Regions from separate parts of the Homo sapiens genome. Here region 2 is linked to region 1. The links come from fine-mapping of genetic effects on gene expression. A gene starts in region 1. The other region holds a variant in brackets. All regions are shown on one strand. Distances are from middle to middle.

What was found. PIP is the estimated chance that this variant, and not a neighbour inherited with it, causes the effect.
Region 2: its variant is fine-mapped to the expression of CYB5R2 in whole blood (TOPMed, PIP 0.98).

The regions. Positions count from the first base shown.
Region 1 is chr11:7,668,565-7,678,709 of GRCh38, forward strand. CYB5R2 (cytochrome b5 reductase 2) reads right to left here and starts at 4,936. Exons shown (of 9, transcript NM_016229.5): 1 at 4,855-4,936; 2 at 4,184-4,327; 3 at 3,887-3,959; 4 at 1,061-1,167; 5 at 641-770. The coding sequence starts at 4,261. LOC105376533 (a long non-coding RNA gene) reads left to right here and starts at 7,896. Exons shown (of 11, transcript XR_007062576.1): 1 at 7,896-7,943. It also overlaps a transcript of OVCH2 not described here. RefSeq lists enhancers at 4,549-4,598, 4,619-4,718 and a silencer at 5,239-5,448.
Region 2 is chr11:7,647,879-7,658,023 of GRCh38, forward strand. It overlaps PPFIBP2 (PPFIB scaffold protein 2), which reads left to right. Exons shown (of 24, transcript NM_003621.5): 18 at 509-659; 19 at 922-1,033; 20 at 1,269-1,357; 21 at 1,654-1,776; 22 at 2,962-3,087; 23 at 3,778-3,966; 24 at 5,146-5,878. The coding sequence ends at 5,340. Among named protein-coding and RNA genes, the nearest start is that of CYB5R2, 21 kb to the right of the region's middle. RefSeq lists an enhancer at 2,995-4,194. The variant A/G (reference allele first, on the strand shown) is at 4,826.

The DNA of each region.
Region 1 (10,145 bases):
GAAACACAGAGAATGCTTATGACCTCTGCAGTTCTTGCCTAAAGAGACTGCAAAAGATCACTGACATTCCTTAGGACTCCCAGGAGGCACGTCCAGCTAAGGGACTGTCTGCACCATTTTAAGCTGGAGAAGCAGGCCAGGGCAGTCTCCTCAGCTAGCCCTGGTGCTCCAGTGCACAAAGTGGGAATAGAGCCTGGGCTTGGTCGGGGAATCGCCGGGCCTTCTGTTCTGAGGAAAAAGAGGGGCAAGCTGAAGTTAACACAGAGACTCAAAGAGCATTCTCACTCACGGAGGTGAACCAGTGAGTAAACAATGGCTATGTGAGTAACCAAGGAGCATGGACTCCCTCCATCCATTTTTCAGTATTAGCAGGCACCATTTATGTATCAGGCATTGTGCTGGAGATTTTGATACAATGACGAGGAAACACCAAGTCATTCCCCTACCTTACAAAAGCTGACAACCTCATGAAGTGGGTGTGTGAATGTGTAACAAGTGTGATCATTATGCATTGTGTGTGAATGAATGAAGACTAAGGACAACCCCATGTGACTCAAATCTGAGGAGTGTACGAGAACAATGGAACCATTGCAGGAATCTTCCTCCCAGCTGGGAGCCCAAGTATTAACCCCTCCAGTACCTGGCCCATGGTAAAACAAGCGTCCCCTTGGCCCTCGAAAAAAGATGGTCTCCCCGATTTTCATGTTCTCCAAATACTGAGTCATCTTCCCACCTTCAGGATATTGGGGGTGTACATTTTTGAAGTAGATCTGAAAAGCAAGGCAGCACTGCTTTCACATTCCCAGACACAATGCCACAGCCACGTACAACTAGAAAATGCATTTACTGCTGGAAGCTTTGCAGAGAAAGTGTTCTCCTCTCTGAATTGTTGTACGCAATCCCTGAAGATGAAGCTGCCACAAGGTTAACTGTAGCTTCACTGCTGGAAAGCCCTGCCTAGGGCATATGTGCCCTCAGAGAAAAAGCACTGCCCCTCCACCCCACCACCCTCAGTAGGCTTGGAAGCACGAGCTAGCCAGATATGGTGGGCACTATTTACCTTTATAATTAGGTCCACAAAGCCTCTGTCATCATCACTGGAGACAGGGGTGTAAGCCCTGACCACCAATTCATTATCGATTTTTGCCAAGAGCTGGACATAGTTACCTATAGAAAAGGCATCAAGCACTGAGTCAAAGCATATTTAGCTTAAATAAGGCCCAGGAATAAAGGACTGAGCTTCAGTGAAGGGAGCAAATACTGGGGGCACAATGTTAAGAGGGGTGGGAAGAAGAGAGCAGGGAAGGAACCCAAATATGGGATGCCCGGATCCTAGGCCTGCCCTGCCTCCCTGTGCTACCCTAGGCAAGTCACTTCACCTCTCTGGGTTTTGGTCTCTTCATCTGTAAAATGGGGGTGATATGTCTGCCCACCTGTGATCTTAGTGTAACTGCTTTTTGGAGCAGGAAAAGATCATTAAAGTTGGAGAGTGAGTATTAAAAATTACAGAAAGGGGTCAGACATGGTAGCTCACGCCTGTAATCCCAGCCCAGAGGCGGGTGGATTGCTTGAGCTCAGGAGTTCGAGACCAGCCTGGGCAAGATGGCGAAACCCCATCTCTACAAAAAAATACAAAAAATTAGCCAGGTGTGGTGGTGCACACCCACAGTCTCAGCTACTTGGGAGGCTGAGGTGGGAGCATCACCTGAGCCCAGGAGGTCGAGGCTGCAGTGAGCTGAGACTGTGCCACTGCATTCCAGCCTGGACGACAGAATGAGACCCTGTCTCAAAAAAAAAAAAAAAATTAGAAAGGAATATTTGTCTATTCAAGAAAAATATGTGGCCTTCACAAACTCCTTTCTTCCTAAACTGGATGTATCACTGAGATCTGTGAATAAATTACAACTACTCCATCTGTATCCTGGTACTAGGCACAGAGCAGGCCTGGGCTCACAGATACTACAGGGCCCTAGGATTTGGGTACCCATGGAGCAAATGAAACAACAATATCATGTCTTCCTGGCCTATGGCCTTGTGAGGAGTAGCAGTGAAGTTTTTAACCATGTAACTCTGCCCTTCCTGGGTAGAATTCAATAAACCAGGTGTGGCCAGAGACCTATGGATCATGACTACATCCCACTGTCAGATGACACACTGGGCAGCTACGACCTGTTGGATCCAAAATGTGAGACTCAAATTACTAAGGCAATTAGTGGCAGGGACAGGAGTGCAATCAAGAGATACTAAGAGCTAGAGGCAAGAGAAAGTTTTGTAACCCTAACCCTTGACTAACTTCCTGTATGTATGTAGTCAGTTTACTCCCTCAGTTTCTACTCGCTCAGAAACTGAGTGGACTACATACGGGAAATTAGTCGAGACAAGGAAGATGGAACAGAGAGATGGATAGAAACCAAGACCTAAGGTGCAGGGAGGAGGAGGAGGCAGGAGGAGAAAAAAGCAGGCAGAGTAGGCACTAGAGGGGCTGGTCCCTGAAGCTGATTCAAGGGGATGAGCCAAGTCTTTGAGGTGCCAACACTCTGGGCTCAGAACAGGCTCAATGACTCTGGTCATGGTCCCTCTGGGCACCAGGGATAGCCAGGAGTAAGTGAGACACCTAGCTTCCTTCTGAGAACCTGAAACTGGAAACCTGGAAAGGCTCTTTCATATGCAGCCACCTAGGCCTGGCCTGAGGGTGTCCCCAGGGCAAATGGGGCTCCCTGGCTGGTCCTTCAAGCCCCATCTCTAACTTGCTTCACTTCCACTGGGCTGGGACGAAGCAGCGAACTCTGAGGCCTCATATTAGACTCTCCCAGAGGCCTCTACATTACCTTGTCCCACTAACTTTGCACGGCCTAGGCCAAGGCTGAGGAGATAGTGGGTCAAGGCAGTTTCTAAGCAATTCTCTATCTCAAAGTTTTTCATTCTTTTAGGCTTCCTGCCAACAGGACCTGCCTGACAGGCCGAGCAGGGAGCTGAGAGACGGCACGCACAACACTGAGCTCTCGTGCATAGAGATGGAGTGAGGGAACAGCAAGGAGGCTCAGGGGCCCAGCGAGCTGGCTAGAGTGTAATCTCACCACCTGATAGAGCTGAGGTCAAGGTTTTGGCCTGTGCATATAAGACAAATAGGCCACGGAGTAGGATCCACCAGGCAGGCAAGCAGCACTAGCAGATTATACAAAGCTGCTCTGAATCCCTGATTCTAGCAGTTTTCTACTGCACTAAGACTGACTCAGCTATCTAGTGGTGTTACAGATTAGAAATGGGATAACTCAACTCTAGGACTCCTAGGGCTGGAATCTGCAACTCGTAGGGCTGGTCCCTCCTTATGTGGGTCTGAGGCCCCTGCAGAGAATCTAAGTGACCTTGGGGGCAGGGCACACCTGACTCATTCCTGCCTACCCGCACATTCTGGGCCTTTCCCCGACCACTGGTTCCTCCCATCCCTCCCAGGTGCACAATACTTTGTAGTTTCTGAATTTTCATATCCATCAGTCACTCTACTTTCACAACAACCCAAGTGAGGTAGACAGGCAGGCCTGGGAAATCCCATTTCATAGACTGAGGCTCAGAGAGATTGAAGGACTTCCCTTAAGTTCCCCAGCAAGGAGCCTTCCATGAGATTTTAGGCCTTTTGGCTCTAGGTTCAGTTCTTTTCAATGCTCACTGAGGTACCACTCTCGTGTCAGCCCAATTGGAATAATGAAGAAAAGAAATTTTCTGTCCCACATCCATCCCCCTATCTATCTCCCTGAGCTCACAGGCTCAGGAGGAGCAAGAGGGCATCTTCCACACCTCAGGACGTGGGAAACCTGTGTTTCTGTTAAGAGAGGAGGGCCTAGCCCCCAGAGGCCCCAGTCCTGGTGATGACCCAAGCCCGGCTCACCTACAGGAAGCCCTAAGACATGGTCCGGCGAAGGCAGTCCAAAGCGGAACCTCCGGGTGTTGTGGCTGATTTTCTGATAAAACAAAACATAGGCAGGTTCTGTCAGCTTTCTAGAAGCCTTGCTGGGCAGCTGAGATGCCTGGGAAAGGAGGTCCGTTTGGCGCTATTCCAGCACACACACACACACACACAGGGCGGCGGGGAGTGAACTGGAGGCCATGAGATGACTGTCTGGATGCCCTGCCATCCCAGCCATCATCCACTTACTGCCTTCCACCCACAGGGCTGACCCATTACCTCTTTCTCAATCAAGGGCAGCGGGTACTTGGCTTCAGGGTCCTGTAAGGTGATTGGCTCTCTCCTCCTGGAGTTCATGCTCTTCAGGACCAACACGAGCACAGTGACCCCAGTGACGGTGATGGTCAGGAGCAGGGACGGGTCCTGGCAGACACAATGTGAACAGAGCACCTCAGGTCTTGCCCGCCCTGGACAGGGCAGCTCTCAGGCGCAGAACACCCTCCCCACACCAAAGGCACAGGAGCTGAGCTCTGCCTGCAGGAAATAGGCAAAGAGAACAGTAGTGACACAGAAGGCGGCTGGGAGAGCCTGTCGTGGACCAGAGGGTAGGGAGGGGTCAGCTGCAGGTCACACAGGAAGGATGTTTCAGGCCCCTGGAGCAGGCAGCACACATGGCCTGGGGTGCTCAGGTCACTAGGCCCCTCCTGGCTACAGCCAAAGGTTCATACACTGGAAGTCCCTTCCTTGAGGTGAAGGGGGAGGACATCACCCCTAACACACAATCCGGAATGAGGGGCCCAGTCCCTAAAGACAGAACTAGGGTGCGTAGCTCTAAGAGGTGCCCCGTGACTTAGGGCCTGGGGACTCCCCAACAGTCTCCTGGACAGGGCGAAGGGGGCCTGGGCACTCAACTGCCAGAGACTCGGGAGCCTCCCCGCATCTGTCCCTACCCTACAAGGCCGCCCTGCTCCTCTCCCAACTCAAGCCCGACAGGGAAAGTTGCCTCTCCTCCCGCCGGGTCACTGGAGTCTCAGCCTTCCGGAATCCGAGCCGGCCCGCCCCACTCCCCGCCCTTCGCGGTCCCGCCCACGACCTCTCCCCACGCCTCCCGCTCCGGCCCCCAACCTCCCGGTCGGACGTTCGTTCCCGGCTCTAGCCGGCCTCCGCGCCTCTGGCCTCTTTCCTTCCGGCCGTCCCGACGGAGATATTTCTTCAATACTCCATAAATACACCCCGCCGCGGAACCCACCCGGAGTGAGACGCCCAACACGTCGTCGAACTGGGGTTGGCCGGGGGCCGCTCCCCGCCGCGGGCCCGCAGACTCGTGGCGTCGCCCCGCAGCTCCGCCTGGCCGACGGGGAACCGGCCGAGACCCGGACACGCACGCCCGGGAGGACAAAAGCGCGGGCGGACCCCGCAGGCTGGGACCCCGGCGGCTGGCCCGCTCCCCGAGAAGGGCCGTGGTCGGGGGGCTCTCACTCACGAGCCGCTGGCTCTGGGTCAGCCCTGCCCCCAGGGCAGCGCTCCATCATGAGGCTGGCGGGGCGCTGAGCCGTGGCGTCCTCGCTCCTGCGCTGCCCCTCTGCATCCTGGCCCCTTCCCTGCACACGCAGAGCTGCCACACTGAGCGCCCCTCAGCTTACTTAAGCTCGGCAAGGCTGGAGAAGGCCGTCTGGGTGACCGGGCGGAGGGGGATGCTGGGGAAGGAAGAATTCAGGCAGCTGCAAAGAGCGCGCGAATATATTCATTCGACATACCTCATGGGCGCCTACCCTGGGCCTGGTCCGGGGCGGGTGTTTGCGGGGTGGGGCCGAAGCAGGGGCGTCGCCGAGTTGAAGACGTGTACTCCGAGCGCTCCTGCGTTCATTCATTCGCTGGGTGGAGAGAGGAAGGACAAGAGCCCCGCGCCGATCGGAGGGGAGCAGAATAGTAGGCACAGTTAGAGGGTCTTCACGGTGCGTTTCGGAACCTTGGCTGCCCGGCTCGCCCTTGATTACAGGCAAAGGCAAATTCTTGCCTCAGGACCTGTGTGAAACAGAGAAGCCCAGAAGCAGATCCCCACCTGTTTGACTCTGCTAGGGCTGCTGTAACAAAGTGCCGCAGACTGAGCGGCTTAAACAACAAAAATTTATTGTCTCGCAGGTCTGGGGGCTGGAAGTCCAAAATCAAGGTGTGGGCAGAGTGGGTTCCTTCTGAGGGCTGTGAGGGAAGGATCTGTTCCATGCCTCTCCTAGGTTTGTAGGAGAGGGGCTAGGAGAAGGGGCATCTTCTTCCTATGTCTCCACATTTTCATCCCTCTGTGTGTGTCCCTGTGTCCAAATTTCCCCTTTTATGAAGACACCAGTCATATTCAATTAGGGTCCATCCTAATGACCTTGTTTTAACTTGATTACCTATGTAAAGGCTCTACCTTCAAATAAGGTCATATCCTTAGGTACTGGGGCTTAGGGCTTCAACATAAGAATCAGGGTGAAAACAATAACCCATAACACTTTACCAACCCTTCTCCCCAAGACACACACCACCACAGGCTCAAAAATTCTTGCTGTGTGAATGAATAAACAAACTTAATTTTCTCTCTTTGACTTAATCAAATGCCTTTACTTTTGATTTACCTGCAGGTGCTTGGTTATTATAGGCAGATATTTTAATTTTTGACAATGCGATAAGTGTAAAATGATGTATCAGGAATCCAATTTGCATTACCTAATAACTGCTAATAAGTTTGAGCACCTTTCATATATTTATTTCCCATGGAGTTTCCTTTTCAGAAAAAAAAAAATGCCTGCTCATAAATTTTGCTCATTTTTCTGTTGTCTTTTTCTTACTGATTTTTAGGGGTTTTATATGTTTTAGATATCCCTTCTTTGCCAGTTACATGAATTAGTAATGTTTTCTCGTAATTTGTAACTTATTCTTTCTTTTTTCTTTCTTTCTTTTCTGTCCCACCTTTTTGTGGTGTAGTCTGATGAATAGAAATTTGAATTGCAGTATAACCAAATATACCAATCTTCAATTTTTTTGCCGTTATGGTTAGTGATTTTTGTGACTTGTCTATTTCTACCCAAGCCCTTAAAGATATTCTATATTTTCCCCAACAAGATTTAAAGATTTTCCTTTCACATTTAAGTTTTTCAACCACTTGGAATTGATTTCTGTGTAGGATGTGAGGCAGGGATACAATTTCATTTTTCCATGTGGCTAATGTGTGTTTTTCAGTAACATTTATTGAATTGCTCACATCTGGCCACTGACCTGCAACTGACCTGCTACCCCTGGCCTATATCAGTTTTCATAGGTGTGTGAGTCTAGCTCCGGCCTCCCATTTCTCTTACATTATCTAGCTGCCCAACCTTGTCGCAATACTACACTGTTTTAGTTACGGTAGTTTACAACAAGTGTTTATGTCTTTCATTCTTATACATTCTTTAGATCTCAGGTCAGATATCACTCCCTTGGAGATGCCTGCTGTGATCCCCCAACTTAAGTACATGTACATATTATAATCTGTTAAGTTTAACTTAAAGCTGCCTCCTTAATGTTTTAGTTTCACCCTAAAAGTTTCTTCGTACATAGTGAACTGTAACCTACTCTTGTATCAATCATGGAAGTTTCAGCCCATTATAGGCAGCCAACTGTTCAGACTGTGTTCAGGTAAGGCAAATCATGAGCTGTAACCAATCCCGCTGTTTCTGTACCTCACTTATGTTTTCTGTACATCACTTTCCTGTTTCTGTCCATAAGTATTATGCAACCACGTGGCAGCCCCAGAGTTGCTCTGAACCTATTCTGGTTCTTAGGGTTGCCTGATTCATAACTTGATTTTTGCTCAATTAAACTCTGTTAAATTTAGTTTTTCTTTTCGTTTAACTATTCTATTCATAGCTTTTTTTTTCTTTTTTCAGAGACAGTCTCACTCTGTTGCCCAGGCTGGAGTACAATGGCACGATCATAGATCACTACAACCTTGAACTCCCCGGCTCAAGCTAGCCTCCAGCCTCAGCCTCTGAGTAGCAAGGACTGTTGCCATCATGCCTGGGTAATTTTTGTATTTTTTGTAGAGATAAGGGTCTCACTTTGTTGCCCAGGGTGGAGAGCAATGGCTATTCAGAAGTATGATCATTGCACAGTACAGCCTGGAACTCCTAGCCTCAAGGGATCTTTCCTCCTTGGCCTCCCAAAGTCCTGAGATTTTAGGTGTGAGCTACCACACACGGCCCTATTCATAGCTTTTACTTTCGTTTGTAATTGTGCATTTGAACAGTGCGTTATTGAATGACTGACTTTCACACTAGTCTGGAAGTTCCTTTATGGCAGACACCTTGTTTTCCTAGGGTTTAGCACACTGACTGTCACAAAGAAAGCATGCAATAAATATTTAATGAACAAATGAATGAATTCATCTCTGCCTTATGTGTGCATTTAGCACACATGATAGACACTCCATAAATACTTCTTCACCTAGGAGAGGAATAATCCTTTCCATCGCACTCTGTCCCCCTTCCTTGCTTAATTTGTCTCCATAAGACATAGCACCAGATGATATATTTTTTTACCTATACAACATATTTTACTTATTTGTTACATAGAATGTAAGTGTATTAATCCATTCTCATGCTGCTATAAGGACATACCCGAGACTGGCTAATTTACAGAGGAAAAAGATTTAATTGACTCACAGTTCAGCTTGGCTGGGGAGGCCTCAGGAAACTTATAAAATCATGGCGAAAGGGGAAGTGAACACATCCTTCTTCACATGGCAGCAGGAAAGAGAAGTGCTGAGCAAAAGGGGAAAAGCCCCTTATAAAACCATCAGATCTTGTAAGAGCTCACTCACTATCACAACAGCCTGAGGGGAATTGCCCTCATGATTCATGATTCAACCACCTCCCACTGGGTCCCTCCCACAATATATGGAGATTATGGGAACTACAATTCAAGTTGAAATTCGGATGAGGACACAGCCAAACCGTATCGTAAGCTTCATGAGGATAGGAGTTACTTTGTCTGTTTTAACTACTGCTATATCCCTAGAACAGTGTCTGGCAATTGGTAGATGCTCAATAAATACTTATTGCATGTATGTATGAATGAATGAACAAACATTGTTTTCCCCCTTGGACTCTGTCAAAAGCTTTTACTTGTAGCTTTGAAATCCGGAGGCACCTCACCTTTTCCTGTGGTTTTCTTAGTAGTTTGTTTCTACCCTTCATTCTTCCCTCTCATTTTCTCTGCCTGTTCCCTCTGTGTTATTAGAGAGGCAGATAGCAAGCACATTCTCTTTATTCATTCTTGGAGCAGGATAAAAGGCATTTTTCTGGGCTCCCAGTAATCTTGAAAGGGCAGTGATTCGCCTCTCTTCTCCTAACTCGTAAACACTGTAAATGTGTCCCTCACATGCTCATGTGCTGCCTGGATTTTGGCTCATTTTCTACTAATCCCCTGAAATAAACCATGAGCACAAGTCTCATGTCTGTAAATCCCCAGCTTGATAATAGGGCCTGGCAAGGGTAGGCTCTCAACAAGCGTTTGCTGAGGAAAAAAAAACAAAACAAGATGAACCTCTGTTGTCACTGTTTGAACATCTGTGAGACTCCACCCCACAAGATTCAGCTCTTCCTGTGCAGGAACGAGGCCTCCTTCATTGCTGAGTACCTCTGGAGGGAACTGATGTCCTGCCCAAGTCATTGGTCAATGAGTGTTTGCCATATGGAAAAATGCTCCACATCACTAATCATCAGAGGAATGCAAATAAAAACCACAATGAGATACCGTCTTGCACCAATCAGAATGGCTATTATTAAAAAGTCAAAAAATAACAGATGTTGGTGAGGCTGTGGATAAAAGAGAACGCTTATACTCTGTTGGTGGGAATGTAAATTAGCTCAGCCACTGTGGAGAGCAGTTTGGAGATTTCTCAAAGAACTGAAAACAGAACTACAATTTGACCCAGCAATCCCATTACTGGATATATCCCCAAAGGCAAATAAATCACTCTACCAAAAAAACACATGCACTTACATGTTCATCAAAGCACTGTTCGGAATAGCAAAGACATGGAATCCACTTAGGTGCCCATCAGTGGTGGAATGGAAAAAGAAAATGTGGTACAGATACACCATGGAATACTACATAGCCATAAGAAACCAAAATCATATTCTTTGCAGCAATGTGGGTGCAGCTGGAGGCCATTATCCTAAGTGAATTAACACAGAAACAGAAAACTTAATGCCGCATGTTC
Region 2 (10,145 bases), 21 kb before region 1:
TCCTGTTTTGTTAATAAGTAATGTGCTAGCTGTTGTTGATTGGCAAGTTTTTGCTTTTAGTTTTGGGTGTTTTGTTTTTTTTCTTTTTAATGTTAAGAGAACTGACCCTCTTAAATGCTAAGAAAAGTAGTTTTCTAAGCATTTTCCTAAAAAGATGATTCCGCCTAATGAGGCCACAGCTCTGGACTTGTGGCATGTATATGTGTGTATGCGGACCTAGGACATGTGAACATGATCTCAGGAGGGCCATACAGGCTGCCCCATTCTCTAAGTAGCCTGAGATTTGAAATTCAGATCTTGTGTTATTAAGAAAACTCTAGGGTCTACCTCCTATGAGTGTGTTGTAGTGGAATTTTGTTCAGCAGAATCCCATGATGGAGGTTGTTTGTTAAAAAACAGGTTTTTTGTTTTGTTTTTTCTTTTCTTTTCTTTTGTTTGTGAGACATGATTAGATTCAGAACCTCAGGCTCTCCCACTAACAGGAATATGCTGTTTTCCTGCTTCCCAGTGACGCCAATGCCCCCTTTGCCCAGTGGAGCACAGAGCGTGTGTGTGCATGGCTGGAGGACTTTGGCCTGGCTCAGTATGTGATCTTTGCCAGGCAGTGGGTATCTTCTGGCCACACCTTATTGACAGCCACCCCTCAGGACATGGAAAAGGTAAGGGCTCAGCTTGGGGAGAGGAGGCTCCCATTTCTCCCCAAAGCATGGGGAGGCCAGGGTCCGCCACTCCTGTCACACATACACACAGGAGGATGGATGGAGGAGGCTGAGAGTTCCTCTGTAGCTGCAGGTTGGCATCCCAGGGCACGGTGTGGAGATACACTGCCATACTCAGAGCATCTCCACCCAGACACAGCTTTCTCTGAGGGCCAAATTGCCTGCCAAAATTTCACATGTGGTCTTCATCTTTTAATTTCAGGAGCTAGGAATTAAGCACCCACTCCACAGGAAGAAGCTTGTTTTAGCAGTGAAAGCCATCAACACCAAACAGGAGGAGAAGTCTGCACTGCTAGACCACATTTGGGTGACAAGTAAGGATAGGCATATATGTATTAAGAATGTCTCTGGCAGCAACTAAGAGTAGAAAGAATTTTCCTGTTAAATGGGTACCTCAAGGACAGCTGTCTCCTTGTAAAAAGCAGAGGAATTACTAAACTTTTGGGGGAATAAAACGAACCTCAAAATATAATTTGCTCCCCTTTTTTTGGTGTCTACATTCTCTCATTCTCATGAATCCTGACACATCTGGGGTTTTTGTATTTGTAGGGTGGCTTGATGATATTGGCTTACCCCAGTACAAAGACCAGTTTCATGAATCTAGAGTTGACAGACGAATGCTGCAATACCTAACTGTGGTGAGGACTTTTTCTTTAAATATTTCAGTTGTCCCTGTGAGCACTCAGCTCACGTGTACCCATGGTGGTTATTTTAAACTTGATTCCATATATTCTTAAGGCCTTGAAATAGTATCATTTGTCACAAAAGAGGTCCCAAGTAGCAGAGTACAAACCACTGTGATAAGCTATTGGTGTCTCCACGTGCACCTTCCTGAGATGTGGTTGACTTGTCTATGCTTGGTCTGGTGAGGGACATCAGGGGTCTTTTGTCACTTTGGAAACTCTGGTTTATAAACCAAACTTTCCTCTTTCAGAACGATTTACTCTTCTTAAAAGTCACCAGCCAACTACATCATCTCAGCATCAAATGTGCCATTCACGTGCTGCATGTCAACAAGTTCAACCCCCACTGCCTGCACCGGCGGCCAGCTGATGAGGTGAGACCACAAATAGTATCTCTCCAGGTAGCCCTGAGCCAGGACCCCTGAAACATCGAGCATGAGCAAACAAGAATGACATCATAAAAGCACTGTTTTTTGCACCATGGTGCCTGGGATTCTTTTGTTTGCTTGTGCTTCCTGTTGCCCCAAACATCCGTTACCTGCACTTTGTGTCTCACAGTAGCCATAGACCTCTAAGCTCCCACCCTCCACTGGGGAGACACATGCTATAAAGTCATCATAGTGATTAAAGGAGATGAGGAGATGGTGCAAAGGAGAGGGGGAGGGAAAGACAAAATGGAAAGATGGGTGTCACAGTAGAAGAGAAGAGAAGAGACAGAGGAGGGGGAAGAGGAGCCCGTAGAAGCTAGACATTTCAGAATAGGTATCCCTACTTGTAGATCCAAAATTAACTGACTTCCAGGCCCAGGTACAGGGGATCCATGAGTAGTCTTGCTAGAGAAGAAATAGTATACGTAAATAACAGCACCCCAAGTCTTGAAGAAATAACTGATTATGTTCCATGAACTTCGGAGTTCTTGGTGGACCCCCAAACTGAAGATTGTCAGTCACATCCTATCTCCTCTGTTCCTGGGAACTAGGTCTAACCTTGCTGTAAAATTAACTCAGCTTCCTGGGCTGCTACCTTTGCTGTCTATCTCCTATTTTCTCCTTATTCAACCAACATGTTTTGAATGTCTTGTATATGTCAGGCACAGCGCTGTGCATTTTTAAGACCACAGTGCTACGTGAGAGCACTTAGGAATAAGTACCTTAAGGTGTGCTCCCCTAAAATCATTGGCCACACCAGGGAGATCTTTCATCTATAAACCACTTGGATTGTAAAATTGACAGTCATCTTTAAAGTTCTGTTGAATCACTGAAAGAATAACTATAATGTCCTCATTTATTTGTCTCAAAGTTAGCTGGAAAATGATGGAGTAACAGAATTCTGGATTCAGATATCTCAGTGTGGAAGATCTTCAAAGATTCAGTGGGAGCTCTATTTCCTAGAAACTGGGGAGGCTGGTGCTCTGGCAGATGGGGTGGGTCACTAAGCTTGAGGGCCTTCTATTGTTGTGATGCGTCTGGGGCAGGGTTACTTACCGGGGCTGACTCCACAGAGGACCATGGTGGGACCTATTAAGCCTAACTTCCTCACTCTCCTTCTCCCTCTGACAGAGTAACCTTTCTCCTTCAGAAGTTGTACAGTGGTCCAACCACAGGGTGATGGAGTGGTTACGATCTGTGGACCTGGCAGAGTATGCACCCAATCTTCGAGGGAGTGGAGTCCATGGAGGCCTCATTGTGAGTGGCTCTCTGGCCTAGCCCACCTGCCTTGGTGCAAATGGGATATTCAGAAACTTATTTATTAAGGACAAGGCACAAAAGCTAACGAAAAAAAATAGGTACTTCATCTGGAGGTCTTGCATAATTTGATGTCTCAAAGTATTTTGATAACTTGTCCTTGAGAATTAATATACCTCATGGAAGCAAGATGCCTTCTGGCAGCACCTCCTTGGCATGAGACTTGAGGATTCTAGGTCGATGGGTTGCATGGAGACCAACGCTTACAAGGCGAGGGAACAGCAGGGCTGAGGAAGGGACGGGGAAGCCGTAAAAATGCAGCTTCCCACTTGCTGCAATAGGATCCCTATCACTACTCAGATCTGTCAGTGGCAAAGCCAGAGGGGAAATGAGGAAGTGTGGTGGCTTGGATGTCATCCAGAGAAGATCCTGAGAGACAGCCTCACCAAAGAGGTCCCAGTTCTCTGCTGGTCTGTGAAAACAAGGTGGTCAGTCAGCACATGTGCTAGTATGTGCTCAGAGCCAGGCCCTGTGCCAGCCAGTGAGTGGAGTGGGACTCAGAACAAGTGACTGAGCTCCTGTCCCTCCTCTGGAGGCACCCCCAGCCCCAACAGGCCAGTCTCTCAGCATCCTCCCCCTCGAGCCATTTGTATTTGCTCCTGGCCAGGCTTGTCTCTGGTTCCTTCTTAGATCCTGGAGCCACGCTTCACTGGGGACACCCTGGCTATGCTTCTCAACATCCCCCCACAAAAGACGCTCCTCAGGCGCCACCTGACCACCAAGTTCAATGCCTTGATTGGTCCGGAGGCTGAACAGGAGAAGCGAGAGAAAATGGCCTCACCAGCTTACACACCACTGACCACCACAGCCAAAGTCCGGGTGAGTTGCAGAGCCTTTCTGGGTGGGCCCTGGGCTGCCTCCTGGCCCTCACGCAGCACAGCACCTGGCGCGATGCCCACAGCCAGAGCAGCATGCGCAGCCTGGACAAAGAGGATCTTTCAGCTTCTGCTGTGGGCTTGTGGTCTGTGAGGCCAGTCTTTGTTAAGCCAGTTCTCCACCAGTTTGGAGTCCAAGGAAGACAGTGCAGGTTTCTTTACCTAGAAAATATGTGCAGGAAGCACCTATCCTCAGGTGGCTTAGAGCTCGTCCTCTACCCCACTGCTGCTGTGACTCACCTTGCAGAGCGGAAGCGCTCCGAGTCTGGCTTTCCTTCGGTCAGGCCTGCCTGCGTGCCGCAATGCCGTGGGATCTTGGTCAAAGCTGTCCTGCTGATATAGGAAGTGCTTCCAATGGAAGCTGGTTCCATTTGTCTTGTTTCGTGAAGTGGCCAGCACACAGATACCCAGAGGTCCCCAGGTCTTTCAAGCACCAACACTACTCACTGGGGCTCCCAGAATCCCACAAAGCCCTTTAGACCTGCCTGAGCCACAGCATCCTCAGACCACATTCTTCCCAGACTACAGACCAACAGGCAACCTCTGGAGGCCAGGCTGGTCCTATCCCTGGTAGTGTTGATGCTTCATGCCCAGCTACAACTCAGGCACAGACCTCCTTCCCCAGGGGAGCAAGACAGGAAGTATGTCTGGGGGAGTCAGGCAGAAACAGTGCTGGATGACGCTAGGGCAGGGAGCAACCTGGGGCTATCCTACGCGCCTTTAGATGGTGCCAGGTGCTGAGATGGGAAAGGGTTGGGGTGCCAGCAGCTGTGCTGAGGCAAGTTCTCTGTGCTTCGCCTCAA[A/G]TGCAGACCTCAAGTACATTCTAAAGGAACTCCCAGTTCATCTATGGAAATAAGAAAGTCACTTTGGTGGGGCAGCCAGGCATGAGTTTCAGGCATAGTATTGGAGGGGCAGCTCTTATTGTTCAAGATTATTTACCTATTGGCCTTTCTGCAGCATAGAAATTGCTTCCAAGAGCTCTGTTTTGTTCAGAGTCTTTCTAGGAGCAGTTTACATTATTCCTCTCCTTGAGTGCCTGCTCTTAAATTTTAAGTATATTGTCAGTCATACCTGCACACTGCCTTGATTGCCTTCTCATAATCTTGCATTTTCTGTGTTTTAGCCAAGGAAACTAGGATTTTCACACTTCGGAAACATAAGAAAAAAGAAGTTCGATGAATCGACGGACTACATTTGCCCAATGGAGCCCAGTGACGGTGTCAGTGATAGTCACAGGGTCTACAGTGGCTACCGGGGCCTCAGCCCCCTTGATGCCCCTGAACTGGATGGGCTGGACCAGGTGGGACAGATTAGCTGATGCCCTTGTCACCTGCCCTCTGTGCACCCTGAGAGCTCACAGTAACACTGTGTGTGTCACCATATAACTGCACCTCACCCCCGCACGTGTGCATGACTCGCAGAGAATATTCCAGCAATTGTGTACCCCTGGGCCAGTCTCTTTGAACCCTGAGGGTGGCCAGGATCTGGAGCTGCATCTCTAAGGGGCCAGGCTTTGGGGACCATTGCCAAAGGTGGACTCAGGAGGAAAGACACTTAAAGACACTTTTACATGTCTAGTAATTCTTGATGTTCATCTTCAGCACCAGTGGAAACACATGAACTTCGATGCAGGTCCAGAGACCATGGACACTCCCACGAGGCTCAGCTCTCAGGCACCCCCTACACTTCAGTTGAGGGAAAAGCTCAAGTGCCTTAGGCCCGTGGACCACAGTCTTGGCTGAGATCAAAGGGATGAGCAACAGGGACTTCTGCCACAGTGACAATGGAATTGTGTTGTGCCTTACTTCAGAGGTGGTCTCTTCTTTCTTGTAATAAAAGCAATATTTATGCGGAAAGCAAGCAGCTCACCATATCTTTAACTTTGTTGGGGAAAAAGAGCTGAGGGTAGCTGGAAATGGAGTCCTACGGATTGCAGAGCTGAAGAGCCGGTGGCACTGAGCCTAGTCCTCAGCCAGGTGCATGCTCAGGATTCACCAGGGGGGTAGAGCAAGGCGGGACCCCCTCCCATAGCCTTCAGAGGAGGTCCGTGGCCGCACTGCTTCAGAATTTGCTTCCCTCTGTGAAGCCGAGGGGGCTTCAAGTCTCATGCACATCCTGACCATAGGGTCCATCTGTCGTGCAGACCTCAAAGCTGAGTGCTTTCAGTGGCATGAGCCCCCCCAGTGAAGGGGATGGTGGGGAGACAAGAAGGCACCTTGCTGGAAAGACTCTCTTTCATGTGTTTTGCTGGCTTCTCTATTACTGACTTAGCTAGGCTCATAACCATGGTGGGGGCTGGTCTGTCTGCTGGCAGAACTGAAAGAGATCTGTCCCCTTGATTTAGAGGCTGACTGACTGATAATGACTGATAATGGCTCCTCCAGATGGGCCTTGTCTGGCTGGGACTGAGGTAGAGATGTGCCTTGCCAGTCTGGACTCCTGGTCAGAAGACTCTAGTTTGCCCCCAGGCAGTGCTTGGCTCCCCTCAATCCCCTGGGCCTCATCGCAGAAGAGTAACACCACGTCACCGCTGTCTGATGGCCTGGGCACGGCCTGATGACTCCATTCCATTGTAGCACTCTGATTCTGTACCAGATGGAGGCTATGCTAAGATTTGCTTCTTAAACTACCAGCAGCCTCAGGCATGGTCTGTTGCCACAGGCCACTGCCTCCTGGGAGGTGAGAGATGTGGGGACAAGCTTGCCAGCTGGCAATGCTGCTGATAGATCCTGGTACCCAGGTCCACTGGATGACAAGTGCTCATTCAGGCTGATGCCTGGCCACTGGAGTTGTAGAGCCAGTCAGGGCAGGCTTTGTCCCTTGTTTCTTATGTTGCGGTACAGGGATCTCTGCATGTGCCTGTTTTCAAAACCTGCATGGAACTGTTGTGCCACTGATTCTCTGCACCCTCAAGTAAGTCCTGTTCCCTTTGTGGGCTTGTTTTCCTACCTATAAAACAAGGGAGGGGTTACACTTGGTGCCCTCCAAATTTACAGAGGATGTTTCCAAATCTACAGTGTCTAAGTAGGTTTAGGGAAGGAGGAAGAGACCAGCATTACCTGAGAAGGAGGGGCAGGAGGGAGGCTCTTGAGTAGTGAGGAAGGATGCCCACCTATGTCAGGGCATTGGTGTCTGAGCTCCTGTTGCCTGGTAGCAGGAGTCTAGCATCCTGAAGGCCTTCATTCCTACTGCTCTCTGCTCCTGGAAATAGCTGGAACATTGAACACGTGCAGAAGGGCTGCTTCTGACAAGCTTGTGTCTTGCCTCTGTGTACCCTGAATGCCAGTTCCCAGTGGGGCCCCAGGAGAGGTATGCATGCAGTGTGGGACATTGATGCCTTTCCCCAGGAAACAGGAGCAGCATGTGCTCCACCCACCTGTCACTCCTCAGGGCCTGGCCCACTCCTTGCCTGTCCCTCCAGAGAAGCATGCCCTGGAGAAGCCAGGCTTGAGCACGACAGGACTTGCATGCCATCTCTCTGAATCACAAGCTGCATCCATGTGTGCTGACCAGGCTGCTGCCCATTTTACAGATGGCACCTTCGGAAGGTACCGTGACGCAGATAGGGCTCCTCTCCCAAGACATTCACCGCCTTACGGTAGGACTCTGACCCTCTCCCCACAGTCAGACTGGTGCCAGGGAGGCCCAGTGAGTTTGGTGTGGTGTGGTGTGGTATGCACAAGGCCTGGGGGACGGCGAAGAATGGTGCTTAGTGCTGGGGTCACAGCCTGAGCCTGAGCCAGCCACGAGGCAGAAAGCAGCCCAGGGGCCTTCTCTGTTGGCCTGTTACTGGACCTTGAGCCCCTAAGGGCAGTGGGGAGGCTCATCGGCTGTTAGCCAAAGCCAGCTAAAGCACACTAGATCTCAGGTCCTCTTCCCAGGCTTAGAGATGAGGAAACCAAGATGCTCAGCAACTCTAGATCACCTGTCTCATCAGCCTAGAGCCCAGGCTGCATCCTGTCCTAGTGGACACTTCCACCCTCTGCCCAGAGACATATGCATTTCCTATCGTGCCTCTGACTTTGTGGGTATCACAGAGTGTTGACAGGCTTGTGAGCACATCCTGGCACGCCCGAAAGGACAAACCATATCATGGGGAAGCAGTTTGGCCTCGAAAAGCAGCTTTGGAGTGAGGCTGAAGTCCCTGCTCTGACTTCACTAGCTCTGTGACCTTGGATGTCATTCTCTCCTGAGCTTTGGCTTAGTTATCTGTAAAGCAGGGCTAATGACATCCTCCTTGCCAGGCTTATAGGCAGACTAGAGCTGGCAGGAAAAGGCCAGCCACAGAGCACAGGATTTGTTTTTGAGGATCCATCACTCCCAAGGCCTTTTAGTTCTTGGACATTCCATCACTGAGCCTATTGGCTATAGTGTCTGTCCCCATCGAGGCCCCTGTCCCTGTACTTTGCTTGCTTGTCTAGCAAGGCCCATTGGGATGACAGGACAAGGACAGGGACACACGACTCTCCTTGTTTTCAAGGACAAAACAGGAAAGTCTCCCTGACTCCAAACAGGATCAGTTTTACTCAACGTTTTTATTTATTGGCCCACCCATGAAAGGAATCTGCCCACACTTGCCCTTATGATCTAGGCCTTTGGTGGCCTGAAAATAGAAAATTTATTTCTAAGATGAACAATTTATTTTTATCTTAATAGTGTTGTTTATTCTGACCCAATACTCAGGGTTTCTTGGGACACTATAAACTTATAGTGCACCTGTGTCAGATGCAGCCCTCACCCAGTGCCCTCTAGTTCCGGTGCAGCTGCCGCAGGGCAGCCTGGACCAAAACTCTATTAAACTGACCCTTCGGCTGTGTCCTTTTCAGACAATGCTGAGCCAGGACCAGCTGCTGAATGACTCTCGCCTGCCTGCCCCCAACTCTGATGACTGGAGATGACTTTCTTCGTGGCTGAGAGCGTAGGGAGGCATGTGTGGGGGCCCCGGAGCCTTTGCTTCTGTGGGGAGCGGGCACACAGCCCCCTCTGCAAGCCCAGTCCGGGCTGGCAGGGTGTCTCAGACAGGCTGCTGACAGGCATGAAGCAGAGCTGTGGGACAGGTGTCCAGGGGTGGCCCCAGGGTCCATGTGTGTCTTCAACCATGCTGCGCTCTTCACCGCAGGCTTCATACCTTTTGTACTTTTATACGTGGACTGCAGACCACTTTGTGGGAGGGCAGTGACATATCAGCACACAGACTCGATGGCTCGTGATATTCCTGGTGACAGCCTGGAGGCTCTCACACTCGAGGGGAAGAGCTGTTAGTTCATAAAACCTGCTGGAAAAAAAGTTCCGAAAAACTGTTTTGAATGTTCTGTAGAGACTGTGTTTTGTGAAATGGTCACCAGGAGGTCCCTCCGGGGCTGCTTCACAGAACGTGCTTTTTCCATTCTTGGGACTGTGGCTGGGCAAGGCAGGTGTTTAGGGTATGAGCGGGTAAAGCAACGAGGCTCCTTACCCACAGCACTGCCTGACTCTATCTCCCGTCATCTGCAAGGGGTATCTGTGCGACTCCCAGCTTGGAGCAGAGGCGTCCCCAACACGTGCACACCCTGCCTTCTGCCTCCACCCAAGCTGACACACAGCCTCCTCCCAGGCCTTGCCCTTGGAGCAGCTCAGGCGTAATGTCTGATTAAATAGCTCCCCCAAGTGGAAGGCCCTTGAGCACCTCAAGCTCCGTGTTTCCACCCCAACTCACCAACTTCCCAAACATGTCTGTTTCCTCTCCACTCTTTAGTCCTTCCTCCCTCCAGGCGTCTGCTCAGGCCCTTCCCTCACTAGGGAATGCATTTTTCTCCTAGTCCCCTTCATGAGGGAAAATCCTGTCTCTCAAGGCACGGCAAAGAGACCATCTCTCAGGAAGCCTTCCCGCATGATCCAGTTACAGGTAGCTCTCCCACAGTGCCGTGTCTGCCCTTGAGCCAGAGCACAGCTCACCTTGAAGTTTCTTGTCGTCTTACCATACCCGTCCTCACCACAAACTTGGAGCACCTGCTCTGCACTGGCTCCTGTAGACAGTCCTCCAGTTGCCAAGGAGATCTGTGCTCCTAAGTTCCTCATCCACCCACTCCTTCGCATGTGTGTGTTAAGAACCTTCCATGCCAGGGCTAGAGATACAGGCATGAA